Linked DNA regions of Homo sapiens: all the other regions are reported to be linked to region 1. The links are microRNA targets in miRTarBase. Many come from high-throughput screens and were not tested one by one. Region 1 holds a microRNA gene; each other region holds the end of a gene's coding sequence.
Evidence for each region. Region 1 holds the annotated microRNA hsa-miR-19b-3p (UGUGCAAAUCCAUGCAAAACUGA, at 2,033-2,055, shown strand). A microRNA usually pairs through its seed, bases 2 to 8, with sites in the 3' UTR of a target mRNA and lowers its output. Matches are read on the target gene's strand: a 7mer-m8 pairs with bases 2 to 8, a 7mer-A1 pairs with bases 2 to 7 and ends in A, and an 8mer does both.

Region 1 (3,264 bases):
GCGTGGTGTGAGCAGCTGGAGCACACCCTGGACGCGCGGGCTGCTCGCGGACTTCAACGGGAGCATTAGGTAAGGGTGTGAGAGACGCGGGAAGAGGCAAAAGGGAGCCACAAAGGCGTACAGGGAAGGACTTCTTTCTTTCTTTTCCTTATTATTATTATTATTATTTGCAATTTAAGGGGATTGGAGAGTGACTGCCCAGCGTGCGCGAGGGATGCCAGATGAACCGCTAATTAGCAAAAGGTAGTAACTAGAAGGGCGCCCTGTCTGATGGCTGTGGGGCTCAGTTTGGCCAGGTTGGGTTGGCAAATACTATGCATTTTGAGTCAAGTTTGGAGTATTTTTTTTTTAATGGAAAAGAAATCTTCACAGGTGTAGAAACCCAATTTAAGGGGAAAAATGTTATTTTTCTCATTTCTATACTAAATCCATTCTTCCCTAATAGAAAATTGATTCCAGATTGATGTATAAGTTTTATAAATCAGTTTAGTTTGTAAAGACTTCTAAAGACTCATTTAGTGGCATAAGATATCGTGACGAAAGTTCAACATTTAAAATTCCCTCACTCGTTTAACGTATTACAGATTCTGTCCCAAACGTTTTTGTTTTTCTTTTAAACAAAAGTTACCCCATCATGGAAGAGATAGGGGACCCTGTGAGCCTTTTTCACATAGAGGCTCACTTCCTTGCTGTATGTTCTTAGGTAAAATAAGCACTTGGAAATGGGAGAAGGTTTTCTTATGGAAGATAATGACATGAAGGGAAGAAGAGCTAATCTGCCTACTTTGGTTTAATGGAGAAAATGGGTCCATAAATGTTTAAACAGAAGTAGAGCCCTTTGAAATAGATCAAAATGTGACATCTCTCAGCCATCTGTGCATTATGTGAAGACTGTAAGGCTGTGTTTCTTAAACCAGCTCTAAAATTTCTCTCATTTTCTATTAATGGGGTGGGGGCTGGGAATATTCATTTAATCTAACAGTCACTTTCCGTATGGAGCCCAAAAGCTCTGAATGATCTGAAGACTCGAATACTCATCCTGGGTTTTACATGCTCCTTTCTCTAGGTCCTCCTCTTATAAAATCAGGGTGGATAGAATGTGCCTGCAAATTACTGAGATGCAGATATCAAATTTTCTTAGATGGAGAGGGGGAGTCCAAAATCTGCTTATACATAAGAATTGGACTTTTTGCAGTTGCCAGTGTTATTCGTGTTCAATTCTGTGTAAATAATTGAGATTATTAATATTTCTCAGGATTTGGTTGAAACCACAAAACCTAGCTTAGACTCTGTAAGCCAAAGGAAAGCCTGTTTCAGGAATATTAACTAGTAGTTTACTTGTTTAGTTTCTAATATGTGTGTGTTTGTTTTGTTGTTTTAACCAGGTGAGTCTGCATGGATCTGTGAGGACGGAAAAGAAGAGCTCCTGGAAGACTTAAAATTTTGCTACAGGAATAGGCCTTGGCCATGTAAAAGTGCTTACAGTGCAGGTAGCTTTTTGAGATCTACTGCAATGTAAGCACTTCTTACATTACCATGGTGATTTAGTCAATGGCTACTGAGAACTGTAGTTTGTGCATAATTAAGTAGTTGATGCTTTTGAGCTGCTTCTTATAATGTGTCTCTTGTGTTAAGGTGCATCTAGTGCAGTTAGTGAAGCAGCTTAGAATCTACTGCCCTAAATGCCCCTTCTGGCACAGGCTGCCTAATATACAGCATTTTAAAAGTATGCCTTGAGTAGTAATTTGAATAGGACACATTTCAGTGGTTTGTTTTTTGCCTTTTTATTGTTTGTTGGGAACAGATGGTGGGGACTGTGCAGTGTACAGTTGTGTACAGAGGATAAGATTGGGTCCTAGTAGTACCAAAGTGCTCATAGTGCAGGTAGTTTTGGCATGACTCTACTGTAGTATGGGCACTTCCAGTACTCTTGGATAACAAATCTCTTGTTGATGGAGAGAATATTCAAAGACATTGCTACTTACAATTAGTTTTGCAGGTTTGCATTTCAGCGTATATATGTATATGTGGCTGTGCAAATCCATGCAAAACTGATTGTGATAATGTGTGCTTCCTACGTCTGTGTGAACACACCTTCATGCGTATCTCCAGCACTCATGCCCATTCATCCCTGGGTGGGGATTTGTTGCATTACTTGTGTTCTATATAAAGTATTGCACTTGTCCCGGCCTGTGGAAGAAAGGAGGATTTTTATCGTCTTCTTATTTTAACTTTTAAAAGCCGTAAGTTCTGATATTTAGTCATTGTAAAATGATCTGTTTTGCTGTTGTCGGGTGGATCACGATGCAATTTTGATGAGTATCATAGGAGAAAAATTGCACGGTATCCATCTGTAAACCGCAGGACCTTTGTTGGCGACATTCCTGATCAGCGCTACAGTAAGCTAGATGGTAAAAAATCCTTTCTCTAGTTGCTGCTATTAAAAAATAATTTGAAATATATTTGGATTTCTAAAAACTATGATAGCTAATTTATAAAGTATGTGTTTTGGAACTTTGGTGAATGATCAGATTGTTACTGAATGTGAATGAACCTCAAAATAAATGAAATTTATAGATCTGAAAAAATGACTCTTTTTTTTTTAAAAAAAATAATTAGCAATGCTAGAGGAGTTTGTAAAATATCTCTTGGGAGGATCCTAAAGGAAAACTTGGACATAGCTGCTTTTCAAGTTTGCATCTACATAAAGCACCAAGATGCCTAATTTTAGGAATTTTATTACCCTGACAATATTTGGATGACATGTACTAATTTTGTTTTAGTACACGTGCTCATTCTTAGGAAGGGAATGAAGAGTTGTAAACCAATGGGACACATACCTTTAAGGAACTGGGCACATTTTGAGGTCTGACAGGAGAGAAGAATGAACTTGTCAATCAAACTCTGTTTTGGGGTTCTCGGAGAAGAGGATTTGGTGGCAGGGCTACTGAGAGGGATGGCTGCTGCCTTGCTTTGGAGTCTAGCAGATGGAAACCTGGATGTGGGCCTACTGTTAATATTTAGGGTTCGGGGGCTCCATAGGGTGACTAACCTAAAGCAGAAATTTCTCATGCGCAGCTAATTAGTGGTTTGAGACTGAACACCAAAAGTTATTTGGATCCTCTAGTGGTTCTTAAAACTTTAGCACTTACTAAGACACAGCCAGCCAACCCCATCTCCAGAGATTCATTCAATAGGTCTGGATGGGGCCTAAGGAATTGCATTTCTTTATTTTTTTCTTTTTGAGACGGAGTTTCGCTCTTG
Region 2 (3,264 bases), not on the chromosome of region 1:
GAGGACCGTGTCAGGCTACCAGATCCTACACATGGACTCTAACTATTTGGTTGGCTTCACGACTGGCGAGGAACTCCTGAAGTTAGCTCAGAAGTGCACAGGAGGTGAAGAGAGCAAAGCAGAAGCCATGCCATCCTTACGCTCCAAACAGCTAGATGCAGGACTTGCCCGTTCCTCTCGTTTGTATAAAACCAGAAGTAGGTACTACCAGCCATACGAGATTCCAGCTGTCAATGGCAGGAGGCGAAGGCGGATGCCAAGCTCAGGAGACAAGTGCACTAAATCTTTACCTTATGAACCTTACAAGGCCCTCCATGGGCCTCTGCCTCTTTGTCTTCTTAAAGGTAAGAGGGCTCACTCCAAATCTCTGGACTACCTCAATCTAGATAAAATGATCAAGGAGCCAGCTGATACAGAAGTGCTACAGTACCAGCTTCAACACCTAACCCTCCGAGGGGACCGTGTGTTTGCTAGGAATAATACATGAATGACTTGGAGAGAGCTTAAACCAATTTAGGTCAGCCTACGCTTGGCTAGAAAAAACCCACTGCTGTACTCTGTACATGACTCTTCACACTATAGATGGTTATATCAGCTAAGTGTTCCTGGAACATAAAAATTGTTTGGGTCAAATTTGAATACAGGAATGAAATCACAGGTACTTGGGGGGGGGATATCATTCTAGAGCACGCAACTGCAAAGAAAACAGAATGTTGACTGTTAGTTTGTATAGCTTTTTAGCTAGGAAAAAAAGGCTTTGGTACAGTAATTTCATCTTTATGATTCTGACACTCAAATTGGGAATGTTACCTGCTTGGTTGTTGCTGACTTGATATGATTCATTAGAAATTTATATCTTCAGTACTCAAGTACTTCTTGAATCTCTGTATTTTACTATAAAATGTATGTAATGATTTGTTTTATGAAATTTAGAACTTGAACATTGCTGAATTGGACCACTTTTTATTTTTAAATATTGAGTTTAAATATTTTATAACTGGTTTTGCACTGAAAAAATTAACATTTCAGATTGACAAGAGAGTAATCTTTCTTCACTTGCCTCAATAATGTTATTGAGCAATGAATTTTTTATTTCCGCATGGAAAGTTATTGATCTCTATGGCTGTAAAATATTTCTTTATAGCGTTATTAAAGTGTGTCTTAATAAAATTAAATTTGGGATACAAAGTATTTATTTTACAATGGGTGGGCGGGGGAAACTTTTCCAGAAAGTTTCCAATATGACGTTTTCATAAGTTGAAAAAACTCTCCTTAGTGCTTATTTTCTAACTTAAAATTCACCTGGAACTTTAAATGGGAAAGGATTCTTTTAATTGTGGATTATAGGCATAATACTGTTTGCATCTGAATTTTCTGTAAGTGAATAATAGTTTAATAGAGGAACTCATGATTTGTACTATTGAATGATTAAACTAAGTATGAAGTGATACCATTCAGCATGGCATCAGGTCATTGCAGTTTTAGTTCTGTGTAACACAAGCACTCACTGAAATTCCAGTTTCTAGGATTAGTGTAGGAGCCTAACGTGCTTCTACTGTTTTAATGGGTTAATCCTGGATTACTTAACAATTTATGTCAATTGCACTGGTTTAATTTGTTGCTAAAGAAATAATGCCCTGGGTTTAGTAACAAATACAGCTCAACTATTCTTGAATATATTTTGAAAAAAAAATGTATGTAACTTACCTTTTGTAAACGTTCCATTTCTTTTTTCCCTCATTTTTGACTCTTAAAGGTGCAATTTATTACTGAATTGGGATTTCTGGCAGCACAGAACTGCTTTTTATTTTGGGGTCTGTGAGTTTCTTAGGTATTAGCAATCTTGCTTATAAAATAAGAACACCTTTTAATTAATGAGTGGGTCATTCCTGGTGCAATTGTGATTTTTCTTTAGCCAGAATGAATGGCAAACTCTATTTAGAGCAAAGTAAGTATTAGAAAACCCTAGGAACTCTTAATCAACGTTTATTACACTTTCATTAAGGCAAACTACGTGAAAGAGCCTTGGGGAAGTTGGCCCATATCTTACTAAGTTGATCAGATTTCTCGTTGGGCTGGAAATGTTTCGCTGTTGTATATTTTAAAGTAAATTGCACCTTTGTAACATATTGTATTGACGAATGATCACTAAGATTAGCTATATCTATACAGTCATTAGTTTGACAAGAAATAGAATCCTGTCAGATGCCAAAGAGTGGGATTTTTATGTTTAATGATTAAACACCATTATTTATTGACAATTTACCCTGTGGAACTGTATTATTTCTAACTATGAAATAAAGGGGTGATGTAAACACACATTGTTGTGTGGTGCTTTAAACTAGGTCCACTATCAACAGGCTACTTACTGTTCAAGAATTCCACTGAAGCACTTATTTTAAGGCCCTATTTTTCTTAAACAAAACAGTGACAACAACAATCAAACCATTTACTTTTGATGCTCATTGGCATTTTATGATAAAAGATGTATTCATGGCAATGATATGTATTCACCCTATTAGGAAACACAACTGGTTACCTATGAGACCTGTTCTGTCCGTGTGCCTACGTTCCTTAATAATAGCTAAATAAAAATTTGTAGCTTTTTTTGTTTTGTTTTGTTTTTTCCTGAAAGACAGGTGAAACTCTGTGGCAAAAATAGGGGGGTTAATAGTATAAGATATGGCATACTTACTCTTTTTTGATTAGTAAAGATATATAATTTTAAATTTGGTTTTCTAGAAAGAAAGTTTCAAAACTCTAGGCCAGTAATTTTCACAATGTGTTTGCAGAACCCCTTTATTAGTTCAGTCTTACTTTCTCTGCACCCCATGGAATTGTAGCCTATGGTAGGTAAGAACCAATTTTTTTAAAAAAAGGGTAGGCTGGATCTCTTTTAGTTGAAAAACAATCCCTTTTGACATGGTTTCTATTTTTTAACTTTTTCATTTTTTATTCAATTTAATATTCCACACTAAATGGGGCACACTTGGCCAGAATATACCTGATGATATTATCTTACTGTTCTTGCCCTTAAACATTGCAGCACTATATAACTTTAATTTTTTTCTTCTTTTGCAAAAGTACCGTTTGTTTGAAGCTCAGATGATGCATAAAGTTGCAGTAAAATTTCATTCCTTGCCTCAATCTGAGGTGAGCTTCTTTTGCTCTTCTGACTTCCATTTGGTTGCATTTTACACCTCTGGGTGCAGGGCTCCCATAGTCAGTAGTCATGGAAGAAGAGGCTCTATGGGGATGGATTTA
Region 3 (3,264 bases), not on the chromosome of region 1:
TTTCCTGATTAGCCCAGGATGATTCCCAAAGCGCAGTTAAGTGTCTGGTCCAGACTAGCTATTAGCGATTAAGTAGTTTCTTTTCACTGTCAAGGCTTTTCCCTGAGGTAATGCCTAAATTCCTAATTTTAATATTTGATCTTATTTCTCTTAGCTCCATCCTCTCTCACCAATAAGCTCTCCACATTTCCACCATGCTAAATGCTTTCTCAACTCTGGAATTTACACTGTTCAAATCTTCCCTTTGTTCAACAGTTATAAAATTTTAGACAAATTTATACATTCCCACATTGTTCCTCTCAAAATTTACTCATTTATATAGTGCAATCAATATATTGTTTACATTTTATATAGGTTAGTTTCTGAATACTGTATGTTCTTCCAAATGTATCCTTACAAAGACACAGAGGAAGGGGGTAACCTTTCTGAATTCCAATTCCTTAATGTTTTAAAAAAAATTATTACTCTTTTCTTTTCCCTTAAACAATTCCCTTCTCAAGTCTTTATGTATCTACTTTCCAAACTTCTTTTCACTGTAGCAAATACCAAAGGAAAAATAAAAATCATTTCAGAGTCAATGAATCTCCTCCCTGCTCTCATTTATTAGATCAACTACTTCAAGGCTACATATGTGGCAGTACTTTTTAAGTGTTAACAGCTGTTAATACCTTGAAGTTGAAAAAATAAAAAAGCCAGAGAAAACATATCACAAGCAATCAGTTTGAATTATATGAAAAGGTACTTAGATCTTGACTTTCATATAAATACTAATTTTAACACTATAAAAGACAACATAACTATATATCATTTTTCTTTATAAAACTACCCCTTAACAGAATATTTGTAAGCTAGTCATCCCTTAGGTTTTTCTGTACTGATAAAAAGTTATTTTTAAAAGAAAAATATTTAAAATAATTGTTTCACAGAAACAGAAAATCTTATCAAATTCTGATAAAAAACTATAATCATGGGTACTCTTACCACACTATTTTCTTTCACCAAAGATGGATATTTAGGAAGTGGTATATTGGTTAATAAGATAAGCTTCTCAGTGATCTACAAAAGCGCCACAATAAAGATGAGGTAGTATGAGACTTTTCTAACCTTGTAAAAGGTAAATATCGTCTTTAGAAGAGATATTTATCCTGACATTGGTGTTATGATATCCGATATCCTGAGCCTCATCACTGCTAAGAGGTGCCATTTTTGTAGCTACATCTCATTGAGACTAAGACAATCTTGAGATCACTGAGGAAAAAAAAAATGCTAAAAGATAACGGTAATAGAGATTTTCCTTAATTTTGTAATAATTACTAAAAAATTATTTTAAAGCTATTATGGAAAAATGCCATTTTCATGTTAACAGAACTGCAAGATAGGGAAATGCTACTCACATAAAAGCAACAATAATGAAGAAATATTTGTTCTAACTTGGAAGTTTATGAGTCAAATTTCTTTCAATCTAGGTAGAAGCAGTTTCCTAATATAGCTAAACTAGCATCAAGAAATCAGTTACGATATTAAAAATGTCAATGTGTACAAAGGGTTAGACAGCTCACCAGAAGAAAATTGTCTATCTACATTTATTATTCATTGATTCCTTAAAAAAAGAAGATAGGATACCACTCCATTTATTTTTACTAGTTACTTTGGGCTAAAGATGTTTCTAAAAACGTTGCCCTGTTTCTGGGATAGTAAATTTAAAATATCACCCCTTTTGTCCAGTACTGTTCTGTATGGTGTAAGTCATGTAGCTGTCAAAAGGCTTTCTTTTTTTGAAGCCACATTACAGACTAAGTTAATTCTGAAGATAGGGATAATTATTTGGATCTTGTAGATCAAAAACAGTATTAAGCTTCCTGAATACTGAGCTCCATGTTTATTTCTGGAATCTTTATTCAAATTCAACTTAAAATAATGAAAAACTACTTAGGTACTCTTTGGTTACCAGTGGAAATTTGTGGCTGCTAATACATTGTGGAATTTCCCCAAAGTAACAGCTCAGAGTTTCTATAAAAGGGCTAAGTAGAAGCAACAGTTCATAAGCTAATACAGAAAAACCCCACAATTACTTTAGCACTTTAGTAACTACTAGCTACTAATAGTGTTATCATTATTTTCAAAGCTTCCAATGAGAAAGGAACAAGATTTATGTTTTGAAGATGGTTTAGCTCTTGCAGGTTGAGAGAAAGACCTATTCAGGAATGACAAATGATCCGGCCACATTGTAGAAGAGTAAGTGCACCTCCAGAATGATATGTTTCCATTTGATTCTCATTGACCAGATTAATCAAATTTAGTAATCCTGCTTTAGAGTTAATATTTAAAATAAAAATACACCAAGTTTGACTTGGTTTTGTTACTTTTAACATCCCTATTAGTAAGTTACAAAAGTCAATAACATTAGTATGAATGGTGAATTACAACATTCAGCTTTACTGAAGAATATCAAACTCAATGAAAAGGGGGACGGGGAACTATATTTTATATATAATACTACTAATGGCATAGATTAACAAAATATTTTACATGTAGGAAAGGACATAAGATTACTTTTAAAGAATAGTATGAAATACACAATATTCAAATGTGTTTGCAATGCCTACCAAATTTCAAATGTGCCTGGATCATGTATAAATTAAGGAAAAAGGATCATGTATAAATTAAGGAAAGAAAAAATGTAAGTATACAACCTACACGGTAAAAACAAAAACCAAACACCTGGTTAAAAATATCTATTTAAGCTCGAGTGTATAACCTTAAACAATTTGTGTATCACTAGAAAAATGGATTTATTAGTAAAATTTAGGGCAGAGATTTTATTTTGGACACCACTGCCTTTGTAGAAAAATCCAAAGTGGCATAAAAAGAAAAATAAAATATTAAAAGAAAAAATATATATTATCATTCCCATGTTCCCATCCTGTTACTAGCATTGCTGTTCTGGTGCATCAATCCTGAGTACTCTAACTTTTGATTTATAATGATATTCCTTCAGATATAATTTCATAGAAGAAGGAATTGGAAGGGCATCGATGCCATCATAAGTTGTACAGTTACAAATAACTGTTCTGCATATATGCTGCAGGGAAAAAGGGAAAGTCCGAATTAAGGGAGTGGATAGAAGTGGTTCAAAGAACATACAGGCGCTTGGGTCCTTATAATGTTCTAGGAGCCCAGTAATGTCAGGAGAATGGAAGACACAGGGGTCATGTGCATCAAAGCTAAAGTTGTGATTCCACTGTTCAATTCTAGCATGAAGAG

Region 2: miRTarBase lists MACIR as a target of hsa-miR-19b-3p. Seed matches in the 3' UTR shown: 7mer-m8 at 1,003-1,009.
Region 3: miRTarBase lists SOCS4 as a target of hsa-miR-19b-3p. The part of its 3' UTR that is shown has no 7-base or 8-base seed match.

The regions. Positions count from the first base shown.
Region 1 is chrX:134,168,474-134,171,737 of GRCh38, reverse strand. MIR19B2 (microRNA 19b-2) reads left to right here and starts at 1,972; the gene lies at 1,972-2,067. MIR106AHG (miR-106a-363 cluster host gene) reads left to right here. Exons shown (of 2, transcript XR_007068340.1): 1 at 1-69; 2 at 1,386-2,588. It overlaps MIR363 (microRNA 363), which reads left to right and starts at 2,286; the gene lies at 2,286-2,360. It overlaps MIR92A2 (microRNA 92a-2), which reads left to right and starts at 2,126; the gene lies at 2,126-2,200. It also overlaps MIR20B, MIR18B and MIR106A.
Region 2 is chr5:103,276,054-103,279,317 of GRCh38, forward strand. It overlaps MACIR (macrophage immunometabolism regulator), which reads left to right. Exons shown (of 3, transcript NM_033211.4): 3 at 1-2,607. The coding sequence ends at 487. Among named protein-coding and RNA genes, the nearest start is that of MACIR, 19 kb to the left of the region's middle.
Region 3 is chr14:55,044,030-55,047,293 of GRCh38, reverse strand. SOCS4 (suppressor of cytokine signaling 4) reads right to left here. Exons shown (of 3, transcript NM_199421.2): 3 at 1-3,264. The coding sequence ends at 2,930. Among named protein-coding and RNA genes, the nearest start is that of MAPK1IP1L, 6.0 kb to the left of the region's middle.